Linked DNA regions of Homo sapiens: all the other regions are linked to region 3. Evidence: fine-mapped expression QTL. A gene starts in region 3. Each other region holds a variant in brackets. All regions are shown on one strand. Distances are between the middles of the regions.

Evidence for each region. PIP is the estimated chance that this variant, and not a neighbour inherited with it, causes the effect.
Region 1: its variant is the best candidate, but not a certain one, in a credible set for the expression of AGO2 in iPS cells (iPSCORE, PIP 0.68).
Region 2: its variant is the best candidate, but not a certain one, in a credible set for the expression of AGO2 in whole blood (INTERVAL, PIP 0.78).

Annotation. Positions count from the first base shown.
Region 1 is chr8:140,534,159-140,538,260 of GRCh38, forward strand. It overlaps AGO2 (argonaute RISC catalytic component 2), which reads right to left. Exons shown (of 19, transcript NM_012154.5): 17 at 1,310-1,411. Among named protein-coding and RNA genes, the nearest start is that of CHRAC1, 25 kb to the left of the region's middle. The variant T/C (reference allele first, on the strand shown) is at 2,345.
Region 2 is chr8:140,610,628-140,614,729 of GRCh38, forward strand. All of the region lies in intron 1 of AGO2 (argonaute RISC catalytic component 2), which reads right to left. It overlaps LOC107986982 (MAGE-like protein 2), which reads right to left. Exons shown (of 2, transcript XM_017014159.2): 2 at 1,622-4,102. Among named protein-coding and RNA genes, the nearest start is that of ERICD, 22 kb to the right of the region's middle. The variant T/C (reference allele first, on the strand shown) is at 2,164.
Region 3 is chr8:140,633,718-140,637,819 of GRCh38, forward strand. AGO2 (argonaute RISC catalytic component 2) reads right to left here and starts at 1,916. Exons shown (of 19, transcript NM_012154.5): 1 at 1,768-1,916. The coding sequence starts at 1,789. ERICD (E2F1-regulated inhibitor of cell death) reads left to right here and starts at 518. Exons shown (of 1, transcript NR_170171.1): 1 at 518-4,102. RefSeq lists enhancers at 1-154, 155-921 and silencers at 728-777, 1,261-1,430, 2,081-2,480.

The DNA.
Region 1 (4,102 bases), 100 kb before region 3:
TGGTGGCTGTCACAGGGGCCCAGGGGAGTGAGGGCATCTGTCTCCATGGGACTGCTAAGGACACAGCAGCAGTGGCAGCCTTGGGCCATAAATAGCTCACCAGAGAAGCATCCCCCGTTAGAAAGATTTTGGGTAGAAAGTTCAGGGAGAAGAGTTTGCCCAGGAAACATGCCCAGGAGGCCCTGGTGGGTGAGGCTCCCCGACTAGAAGGGAAGACTGAACAGAGGGCACACGCAGGCAGGGCATGGCCCCAGGCCCATCTCACCAGCCCTGGCAAAGCAAGCCAACACTGGGACAGGCACTTTGCACCAGGAAGTGCCACAAACCCTGCACGCACTCCATCGCCTGCTTCTCAACAACCCTTCAAACAGCAAAACCCACTCTCAGCTCCCGGGCTGCAGGCTGGACCCGGCCCACAGGCCACGGTTCCCTAGCCCCCATTCCTTCTCTGTCAGGCATGTGAACAATGTGACATTTTAAAATATTTCCAATGGAATATTAAAGGTACGTACAAAGTTCATAGCAAATCCTCAAACTCTAGGGTTCAAATCCTTTAGGAAGGGATATTCAAGTCCTTACTTATACTTTGAAAAACCAAAAGCCCCTCTGATCAAGCTCTCTGCAGGCAGGGACGGCACGTGACTAAGGTTCCTCCTGTCCCCCGGGCGAGGCTCTGCAGAGCTGGGGAGGGGCAGCTCCTACCACGGACGTGGTGCTCCTGCTCCTGTCAGTGCTCCCAAGAATCGCCTTGGGTCAGATGGGGGTCCCCTCATGAAGGAACCCAGGAGAGCCTCAAGGTGGTAACCAACACCATGGCCACCTTCTCTGAGCACCCAGTCCTTGGCTGGAGCCTGGCCCTGGCCAGTGATTGCGCGAGGGGACGGCAAGGCTGACTGCGCCAAGTGCTCGTGAATCGACGCCAAGTCTGCCCCATGCGGCCCCTGCAGCAGCTGCCCAGTGGCCTTCCAGCTTCCACCCCATGGCAGCCCCAGCGCCTCAATCCTGCTCAGACCTCACCAAGCTCCAGCCACACCACACCCCTGGCTCCCCAAGGCCCTTGGTGCTCCCTGCTCCTCAGCCCTACCAAATGGGACTTCCTTTTTCTGGGAGGCTCATGCTGACCCACCCCCCAGGCCCCTCTCCCCACCCCAGCGCCTGGCACAGCCTGGGCTCCCCGGTTCCCTGGTACTGCCTGTGTGGGCCCCTCACACCACATCCCACGTGCCAGCCAGAGTGCAAGTGTTTGCTGAATGTGGGGATGACACGGCAGACGGCCAAGACTCTGTCCGAAGGGGACTCCCGGCCTTACCTGGATGCCAGCGTGACTACACAGGTAGAAGTCGAACTCGGTGGGGTGGGTGATTTTCGTGTCCACAGTCGTGCCTGCTGGAATGTTTCCACTTTTCCCAACCTTCGGCAACACAGGCATCTCGTTAGACACGGCCAGGGACCGGCAGAGCCAAGCAGGCGGGCCAGGCAGCCGCGCCGCCCGCTGGCCAGGGTGCCCTATTTTGAAGTTTTTAAATTGGCTAATACAGGTCCTCGGTAGGATAGTGTTACATAAAATTTAACAACTGCTGACCACCAGGTTAAATGAATTAATGTTCCATGTGGGCTGGGGTTATTTTCCGCCAACTCTCATGAAGGCCCATGAGTTAAATGCAGTCTTTTCACTGCAGAACGTGCCTCTGATGCCTTAAGAGTCCCTCGATACTGTTGGTGCTATTTTGATTTGAGGTCAAGATGGAAACTGTCACCAACGTACACATCTAAAGCTAAACCAGGTGACTGGCTGCGGACAAGCCATCATCCAAGCACAAGCACACCGGCGCTCCAGGCAGAGGCGCTGGGAGGCTCTGAACGCTGTCAGGAGTGCCTGTGCTTTGCCGGTAGCTTGCGCCCAGCACCTGAGAGAGCAGGGCGGCTCCATCAGAGACTGTCCCAGAGGCCAGGGGCGGTACATATAACCATTCAATGGTTTAATTACAAGGTCACAAGCATGGACCAAAAAGTCAGCCAAGATGCAGGCATGGCCACGCCAGCAGCAAACCCCCACCCCACAAGCCCTGCTCCAGCATTTAGCAAGGTCCCTGATGAATGTTTTCTAGTTGTACACATTTTAAATATACATACAAAAAAGAATCTCCAGTGTGTTCCCTTCTTTGCAATTTTTTTTTTTTTTTTTTGAGATGGAGTCTTGCTTTGCCACCCAGGCTGGAGCACAATGGCGCAGTCTCGGCTCACTGCAACCTCTGCCTCCCAGGTTCAAGCGATTCTCCTGCCTCGGCCTCCCGAGTGGCTGGGACTACAGGCATGTGCCACCACGGCCGGCTAATTTTTGTAT[T/C]TTTAGTAGAGACGGGGTTTCACTATGTTGGTCAGGCTGGTCTTGAACTCCTGACCTCATGATCTGCCTGCCTCGGCCTCCCAAAGTGCTGGGATTACAGGCATGAGCCAGCGCATCCGGCCCTAATATCTCTTTTCAAAGTAGGTTTGGATTTTGTTCATCTGCTTTATTTCTTCTTCAGTTTCTACCTCAATTATTTTCCATTCTAGGATGGAGAAGTGGCGTGTAGGTGTCACCAGGAGCAAGCTGACTTCCGAGCCCTCCTGCCTCCTGGCAACAGAGATCTGGGGGCTGCAGCGGGGAGGAAGGGGGACAGGGGAAGACACCCAAGGCCATGAGTGCCTCAGCCTTCCCTTGACTCCTGGGGACTGAGGTCTCTTATTCCCATCCTTCCTATGTCTTTAGGCTTCTTTTATGGCCCTCTTTCTTGTTGTACAACAAATTCATCTGAATCTACAGACGGCACTGTTTCAGCTGCATTGCATAAGGCTTGACAGGACATTCTCGATTGTGTTAGCTTCTGAGTACTTTGTGATTTCTATTCTTGTTACATGTTTAATGCATGAGCTACTCAGCAGTGAATTGAAAGTTGAAAACATTCTTCCACTTCGTTTCTACTGTTGATTTAAAATTTAATTGTATAATGATTTAAAAAATATGGCTTGAGACTGAAGTTTGGAAAGCTCCCGAGACTTCCTTTGTCCTGGTAGAACTTTTATAACCCTTCCGTGTGAACTCAGCTATTTGTAGGGAAGATTCTATCTAGCTATTAGACCTGGCTTGGCTTGTTCATTTCACTCTTCCAATTTTCAGGGTTTCTTTTCTTTTTTTTTTTTTAAGACAGGTCGGAGTGCAGTGGTGCAATCACAGCTCATTGCAGCCTCAGCCTCCTGAGCTCAAGTAAGTCTCCTGCCTCAGCCTCCTGAGTAGCTGGGACCATAGGCGTATGCTACCATACACAACTAATTTTTAAATTTCTTTTCGAGATGGGGTTTCACTTTGTTGCTCAGGCTAGTCTTGAACTCTTGGACTAATACGATCCACCTACCTTGGCCTCCCAAAGTGGTGGGATTACAGGCGTGAGTCACTACGCCTGGCCCCAATTTTTTTTCCTTAGTTTTTCATTTTTGTCTGGAAACAGTATAATAAGAGCTGTGTAAAAATATCCACCTTTGATGGCGTGTTCATCAATTTCTCCTTAAAATGCTGTTAGTTTTTGCTTTACTTTTTTTTTCTTTACATAATTTGGTGTTAGGTACATTCAAGCTCATTAGTTGCTGTATCTTTTTGGTGAATCATTCTACTTATTTATTTTTGGGTATTGTTTTTCTTTTTTGAGATAGTCTCACTCTGCCCCCCAGGCGGGAGTGCAGTAGCAAAATGTTGGCTCACTGCAACCTCTGCCTCCCAGGTTTAAGCAATTCTCTTGCCTCAGCCTCCCGAGTACCTGGGACTACAGGCGCCCGCCACCACGCCTGGGTAATTTTATGTATTTTTAGTAGAGATGGGGTTTCGCCATGTTGGCCAGGCTGGTCTCGGTCTCCTGACCTCAGGTGACCCACCTGCCTCGGCCTCCCAAAGTGCCAGGATTACAGGCGTGAGCCACCGTGCCTGGCCTGGTGAATGATTCCTTTTACTGTGATAAAATATCCTTTTTCCTCACTGTGATGCTTAACTTCTGTTTCACCTTCCATTTGCACAGTAAACCTTCCCTGTGTCCTTGCACAGCCGTGCCTGTAGGGAGTCTAACACTCTGAA
Region 2 (4,102 bases), 23 kb before region 3:
AGCAGGGAGCCCGGCTCCCATACCCACAGCCCAAAAGAGAACACGGGCCCAGCCTAGGCTGGTTCCTGAAGGCGACAGGCCCCTGGGCCCCACTGTCTCTGCACCAGAGGGGTTGGGAGCCCCTGTCCTGCCCATGGCCAACCCCCCCATATGCTCAAAGCAACAGTCCATCCAAAGACTTTGAAAAAAACACACAGTCCCCCAAATCTCTCACAGACTCAGCCAGGCGGCCACTCCATGCAGATGAGATTTTAGATTCCAAATCAGATGCTCTTCTTGGGTGGTTTTATTCAAACATGTGTGTAAATCATGATACAATTTAATTAAAGTGGAACATCTCTCCGAAACACTCTGGGATTAAGTAGACACGCGCGCATGCAGATCATTCGAGAGTTAAACAGAACAGGAGTTAGGAGTCTTCTGACTTAGCGGTTCTCTAAGTGTGGTCCGGGGAGCTTCAGGGAGGTCCCCAGGGCCAGAGCGGCTTGTGTTTTCCCTGTGCTGACATTTGCTCCGGTGGCTAAGGTGAAACTGCAGGTGCATCTGCACAGTGCAAGGCGGCGATGGCAGGCAGTACCCTCAGACGCTGGACTCACCACCACAGCACGTGCACAGCACGGGGACGAAGCCAGCCTACCTTAAAACTCCTGCAGAAAGCAGCAAAAAGCATCAAGTTTATTCCACATTGACTCTTAAGCCTTTGTTTTTTTTTTTTCTTGATATGGAGACTCGCTCTGTTGCCCAGGCTGGAGTACAGTGGCACGATCTCAATTCACTGCAACCTCTGCCTCCCAGGTTGAAGCGATTCTCCTCCCTCAGCCTCCCAAGTAGCTGGGATTACAGGCGCCCACCACCACACCGGGCTAATTTTTGTATTTTTAGTAGAGACGAGGTTTCACCATGTTGGCCAGGCTGGTCTCAAACTCCTGACCTCAGGTGATCCGCCCACCTCGGCCTCCCAAAGTGCTGGGATTACAGGCGTGAGCCACTGTGCCTGGCCGTGCCTGGTCTCTTAAGCCTTTTGAATGTTCTGTATGAGGAAGTGGGGGGTGCACATACCCACATACCCCTAAGTGTGAGGCTACCCCAAGGAGAGGCACTTGAGTGTGGCCTTTCGAGCTGTGACCTCGAGTAGGGTGCCGGGCAGATGTCTTCTCCAAGCAGACCTAGTGACCTGCACTTCAAAGAAAATGGCTGATGGTGTCTGTTGCAATCGTAAAATTCAAGCTTTAACATAAAAATTATAATCGTGGAAAACATATTCACCACCATGAGCTTCAAGCTTCCAAATACTTAAAAGACTTCTGGTGAGTTCGACCGGGCGCGGTGGCTCACGCCTGTAATCCCAGCACTTTGGGAGGCCGAGGCGGGCGATCACGAGGTCAGGAGATCGAGACCATCCTGGCTAACACGGTGAAACCCCGTCTCTACTAAAAATACAAAAAATTAGCCGGGAGCAGTGGCGGGCGCCTGTCGTCCCAGCTACTCGGGAGGCTGAGGCAGGAGAATCGCTTGAACCTGAGAGGCGGAGGTTGCAGTGAGCTGAGATTGTGCCACTGCACTCCGGCCTGGCCAAGAGCGAGACTCTGTCTCAAAAAAAAAAAAAAAAAAAAAAAAAAAAAAAAAAAAAAAGACTTCTGGTTAGTTCAGCAGTGTTCGTGAATGGGATGTTTTGATGATCTGTGTGATTAAATGTGTCACTGCTGGAAGGCCCGTGTAACTCTGTGAGCTAGTGTGTTCCAAATGCCTGGTGCATGATGGACAAAACACATGGGAGACAGGATCCATTCGGGCTGCAGTTCTACAGCTGCGGATTCTACACTGCACCTGACTTTCAAGAAACTATTGCTTTTTCTGGCTGGGTGTGGTGGCTCACGCCTGTAATCTCAGCACTTTGGGAGGCTGAGGTAGGTGGATCACACGAGGAGTTTGAGACCAGCTTGGCCAACATGGTGAAACCCCATCTCTGCTATAAATATAAAATTAGCCGGGTGTGGTGGCTGTAATCCCAGCTACTCGGAGGTTGAGGCAGGAGAATCGCTTGAACCCAGGAGGCGGAGGTTGCAGTGAGCCGAGACTGCGCCACTGCACTCCAGCCTGGGCAACAAGACCCAAAAAACTCGGTCTCAAAAAAAACAAAATGAAACTACTGTTTTTCGAGTT[T/C]TGGTGTAGTAGCAACAAATACCCATAATTATCTGAAAAGGCTACAACAACAACCCTCCCTTCCAGCTACATAGCTGCATGAGGCCAGATTTTTTTTTTTATACTTCAACCAAAACAACATATCCCTGGCCAGGCATGGTGGCTCGCGTCTTTAATCCCAGCACTTTGGGAGGCCGAGGTGGGCAGATCACGAGGTCAGGAGATCGACACCATCCTGGCTAACACGGTGAAACCCCGTCTCCACTAAAAATACAAAATAATTAGCCAGGTGTGGTGGCAGACGCCCGTAGTCCCAGCTACTCGGGAGGCTGAGGCAGGAGAATGGCGTGAACCCGGGAGGCGGAGCTTGCAGTGAGCCGAGATAGCGCCACTGCACTCCAGCCTGGGCGACAGAGCAAGACTCCGTCTCAAAAAACAACAGCAACAAAAAACAAAAAAACCCCAACATATCCCTGTCGACAGAATGCAGAAGCCAGCTGATGCTTTCTATTAAGGCAGACCTTAAGGAGATTTAGGAAAAATGTAAAACTACGCCACTCTTCTCATTATATTTTGTTTTAGAAGAAATTATCTTTCATAAAAACATTTATATGAATACATATTTAATATAATGACATGTTGTTGTATCAAATGTTTTTTAAACTCCTGTTTTAATTTGTAATACAACAGATATAACCCACATAAACAAATGGTCTTCGGGGTTCTCAATAACTTAAGAATGTAAAGAGGTCCCAACCAAAAACAGCTGAAGAGCTGCCGTCTGAATGTCCCTTTCCAGGAGTGGATTGTCATCTAGAGTATTTTCTTAAAAACACAGCAGCCCTGCCTGAGGTTTCTTCAGGAATAACGGTAATACTGGCAGAATCGGCGACAAATGGAACTCTATCCACAAGACCACTGCAGAAATTCGGGTCTGGTTTCTATCACACTATAAAGAACAGCTGGCCAGGCATGGTAGCTCACACCTATAATCCCAGCACTTAGGGAAGCCGAGGCAGGAGGGTCACTTGACCCCTGGGGCTTGAGACCAGCCTGGGCAACACAGAGAGACCTCGTCTCCACAACAAAAATTTTTAAAGTAGCCGGATGTAGTGGTGCATGCCTGTGATCCCAGCTACTCAGGAGGCTGAAGTGAGATCGCTTGAGTGCAGGAGGTTGAAACTGCAGTGAACCATGATCATCCCCAACGCACTCCAGCCTGGGCAACAGAGCAAGACCCTGTCTCAAAAAAAAAAAAAAAAAAAAAAAAAGGCCAGACACGGTGGCTCACGCCTGTAATTCCAGCACTTTGGGAGGCCAAGGCGGGCGGATCATCTCTCAGGTCAGGAGTTCAAGACCATCCTGGCTAACATGGTGAAACCCTGTCTCTACTAAAAATACAAAATTAACTGGGCGTGGCGTGTGCTTGTAGTAGTCCCAGCTACTCGGGAGGCAGAGGCAGGAGAACTGCTTGAAACCGGGAGGTAGAGGTTGCAGTGAGCCGAGATCGTGCCACTGCACTCCAGCCTAGGAGACAGAGTGAGACTCCGTCTCAAAACAAAACAAAAGCAAAGGCAGGACTCAAGTCAATATTCATTTATTCAAAACAGTGTCCTAAGAAAAACACATTAAACCAATTCTTTAATGAAAACACTGGGAAATCCAAACCCACTAAATTCTGAGCCAATCTTTTCCTTTGATTCCCTAATGAAGTTTGCTCTATTTCAGAGAGGTCCCCTAAAAGTCCTGCACGTTTGCATAATTATGGCAAAGGAATGCAAGCTACTCTCCTCATGTCTTCAGCAACCTGTTGCAGTGACAATGCAGCCCACACTCTACTAAGGCGTCCTTCCGGGCCTGGGGTCCAACAACCAGACCAGGAGCCACACGAGTCAAGGTTCTAGAACCTGGAGGCACCACCAGGTCTGAATCCAGGATCCAGTACTTACTGCTGCGTGAC
Region 3 (4,102 bases):
TGAGGAAGGCACCCAGAGAACCAGCTCGGAAGTCGGACCGATTGTCCTGATACTCACTCACTGCTGTGTGACCTTGGTGAAGTTCTCAACCTCTGTGAGCCTCGGCTGTCTGTCTTCACAAACACCACCAACCTCAGCAAGTGGAGTGAATTAAGTAACACGCAAAACACAACACAGAAAGCTTGACCTTCCTTAAAGCCTCTTCACTTTTTCTGGGCCTCCAACTTTTAAAACCGATAACCTGAAAAAATGTAGTGCTGTCAGTCCCATAAGCTGGGTTCCTCTACAAAGAGGAGCTGGAAGGTCCCAACTCACAAGGGGATGCCCGGTCCTTTCCCAAGAGGGGGCCTGGCCACCCAAGGCCTCTAGAGGCCAGCACCTGCTCCAGGACTGCGGCCCCTCCCAGGTGGAGGGGGAAAATCATTCTTCAAACTGCTGATGGCCCTCAGGGGTTGAAAAGTTGGTCAGACTCCGCCTTGTTGAAGCTTTCTAAATGACATCAGAAAAAAGACGCGACATTCGCAAGGCACAGAGCCAACAGCTCCAGCAGTGGGGGCCACCATCAACGGACCAAGGTGGGCCAGGGGGCCTTCCGGACCCCACAATTTGGGGCCGGTCTGCAGCAACGAGGGCAGCATCGGGAATGCGAGCCTCCTCGCCCGGCCGGGTAAACATAAGCCCAGAGCCCGGCGGGGCCTGCGCCGCCTGCGGCCCGGCTGGGGCCCAGCGGACAAAGGGGAGCAGGCGGTGCCCCGTCCCAGCGGCCAGGCCGGCCGAGAGAGCCAGGAGCCACGTGCCCGGTGGGAGCACGCCAAAAGCAGGAGAACACCTGACCGTTTTTTTGGCCCACCAAGGAGACCGCCTTCTACTCTGCATTTAAAAAGAAAAACAACGCGTTACCGCTTTAAGTTTTTTAGAACTTTTCCAGAGAAAGGCCGACTAGCAACAAGGGGTGCTACAGGAATCCACCTCGCCTCACCTCTCCTAGGAAATTGTAAAAGGAATTAGCACTTGAATGGGGAGGCCGGCGTGTCTGGAATGAGAACGAGCCGCGCACGCAGTTTGAGGGTTCCGGGGAGCCGCGTCCTCCCCTTTCCAGGCGACAGCCCTAACTACAGGAATTGGCCAAAATTCAGCATTTCCAGACTTTCCTTGGGAAAAGGGGCCGAAGAAGTGCCGGCAACAAGAAGGGCCACAACGGAGCGCGCCACAGACTCACCGCGGCTGGGGTCGGGACCGGCGCAGCCCCCTCCCCTCCCGCCCGTGCGCGCCCCGAGCCGGGCGCCCCGACCCGGCCTCCACCCGCTCAGGCGCTCAGGGTCAGGCCGGGCCGGGCTGCGGCGCCCCCATCCCCGCCCGGGCAGCGAGGCCGGGCCAAGCGGGGCGCTCCGGGCCTCGGGCCTACACGCGGCGGCCGCCTCGGCCCCGGCCCCAGCCCGCGGGCCCCGGGCGGGGGATGCGAGGACGCTGGGACGCGGGCCCGAGGCGCGGGAGGGGCCCAGGCCGCGCGGGGCGCCCCGACGACTCGCGGGGGCCGAGGAGGCCGGGGCTGCGCGTCCAACGCGGGGCCGAGAAAACGGCCGGCTCGGCCCCGCCGCCGCCGCTCCTCGAGCCCCCAAGCGCGGCCCCGGCTCGCCCGCCCCCGGCCCCCGCCGCCCCGACCCCGCGGCCCCCCGATCCCCGGCCCCTGCCGCCCGCGCCGGGCCCGCCAACCACGGGCAGGAGCGCGCGAACGGCCGGGCGGGCGCCCCGAGCGCCAGGACTCACCGGGGCCGGCTCCCGAGTACATGGTGGCGCCGCCGAGGGGCTCCGGGGCCGAGGGGCGGCCGCGCGCGCGCCACGGGCCCCGACGCCGCGAGCCGCGAGGGAGCCGCCGGCCGCACGATCCGCCCCGGCGCGGCCGCCTCGCCAAACAGGTTTACCCGACGCGGCCGGGGCGGCGGGCGGAGGCGGCGGCGGGAGCGGGAGCGGGAGGGGCGGGGGAGGAAGGAGGAGGGAGGGGGAGGGGAGGCGAGGCCGGCGGCGGGAGCGCGCTCGCGGGGGGAGCGGGGCTGGGCGCGCGGGCGGGGTCCGCGGCGGCGGCGGCGGCGGCGCCGGGTCTGGCGGGGCCTGGGGCGGGGACCCGGGGAGGGGCCCGGAGACCTCGCCGGGCGGTGGGAACCGCGGGCGGGAGCGGGGACGAGGGCCGAGGGCGGCGCGGCCCGTGTGGCGCGGGGGCGGGCGCGGCCCCGGGGACCCTTCACTGCCACCCAGAGAAGCCGCGTCTTCCCGACGGGGAGGAGCCGGGCCCCCCGGCTGTGCCGCCGGAGCCGGAGGGGAGGCCACGCGCCCCCGCTTTCCCCGCCGCCCCCCGGTGGGGGGCGCAGAACCCTCCCACCCTCAGCCCCTCGGCCCCCAGCCTGGCTCTTTAAGTTACTACAGAAACACGGAGGTCGGGAAGCTCCCTCCCAGCCCGGAGCTTGAACTTGAACGCGGCCGGCCGCTCGCGCAGGACCACACCGCCACCTCCCGGCGCGGCCCCAGAACCCAGATAATCCGTTTAAAGCACTGAGAAAATCTAAGAAGTTTTTAGTAAACTGTAGCTGGTATCAGGGATCAGATCAGCGGACACGCCCATTCCAGCAGTCAGGGGCCTGCTCGGACCGTCGTGCACCTCCGAGCGTTTCTGTCCGGTCCCTCTGGGTCCGTCTGGTTTTCGGAGGCTTTCCTGGAAAAGCCAGCCTGTGGCTACCTCCTTTCTCCCCTAAGTGATGGAGGATTAGAAGGCAGAGGTTGACCCACAATCTAAAGTGCCTGGTCGCCTTTTCCCAGATTTCCCGGAGCATTCCTTCACCCCGTGGCATCGGCTGTCTGCATATGGGTGCAAGGCCCTGTTCCGGGCGGAGAATAAACAGGAGTTCTGACTGACAGGAGCTCCGCAGCCAGCAGGGTGGTCACTAGTTCTCTGCAGTCTCGGAGGACAGCCCTGAAGAAGGGCAGGAGAACCAGCACTTCCTCCGAAAACTCAAAAGGACATCAGTCTTCACCAAGTTGCCGATACAAAACGTGCTCCTGAAATGTGTAGTAATGAACACCAGGAAACCTGGGTAGGAGTGTGCATGGCATTCTTCATCACCGCTTGGACTGCATGGCACTGAATACCCACGGAGAGCAGGATGGAGAAACAGTGTGCTCATATTCACAGGATGGAATCTAGCCATTCACAAAAATTCCAAAACAGGCAAAATTAAACTGCATTCTTTAGGGAAGCATCATTAAGTAGTAAATAATTGACAGAAGGGCAAGAAGGTGCTTACTCTAAGTGTCAGAATGGTGGATACAGCTGGGGGTGAGAGGGCTGTGACCACAGCAGGGCCCCTGGGGGATTTGGGGGTGCCAGGCCTGTTCCTTCCTGCAATGGTGCCCTTTGGCAGCCATCCCTTAAACTGCACTTTTACTTTATATGCTTTTCTGTACCTTTACTGTAGTATTTCACGGAAATTTTTAAATAATCATGAATGTTACCACTTTCCTATTTATGAACCATGCAACCTCATCAATCTTCCCAGTTCGCAGATGCCCACCCTCTCTCTCTGCCCCTGTCTCCTTCACATATCCCCAAAACTCGTTTTGGCCCGAAATCCCTGAGGCCCAACTGCCCTGCTGTCAGCGACTGCACGCCTCAGCAAAGGCCCAGAAGGCTCTGTCATCACTGGCTGCCCTCAGCCCGCCTTCAGCTCCTTTGAGCGCTGTGTTGGGGAACTTTGTTGCAAGGATTTCGTTCCAGAAGGCAAGATAATGTCTCTGAGGGCTTCATTGTGTCACTTCTCTTTGGATGGCGGACACCGTGGCCCTCTGCTGGCGGAGGGGTGCCATTGCTGCCTGCCCCATCTCTATCCCCAGGGCCCATGCAGTCACTGGGTTCGCCCTCTGGGGCACGGGGTTCCCTCTGCTCTTTTCCTAGATAAGCCCATTCTCTGCAGGTCTCTACCCTCCACACCTGTGTTCAGGAATTCAGCCCGCTTCCTGCAGCCCCATCCCTACCCTCCTCCCAACCTGCTTTTCTTCTGGTGTCCCTCACTCAGCATGGCTAACAGATCCACCACCCAACGGAGCTGAGAAC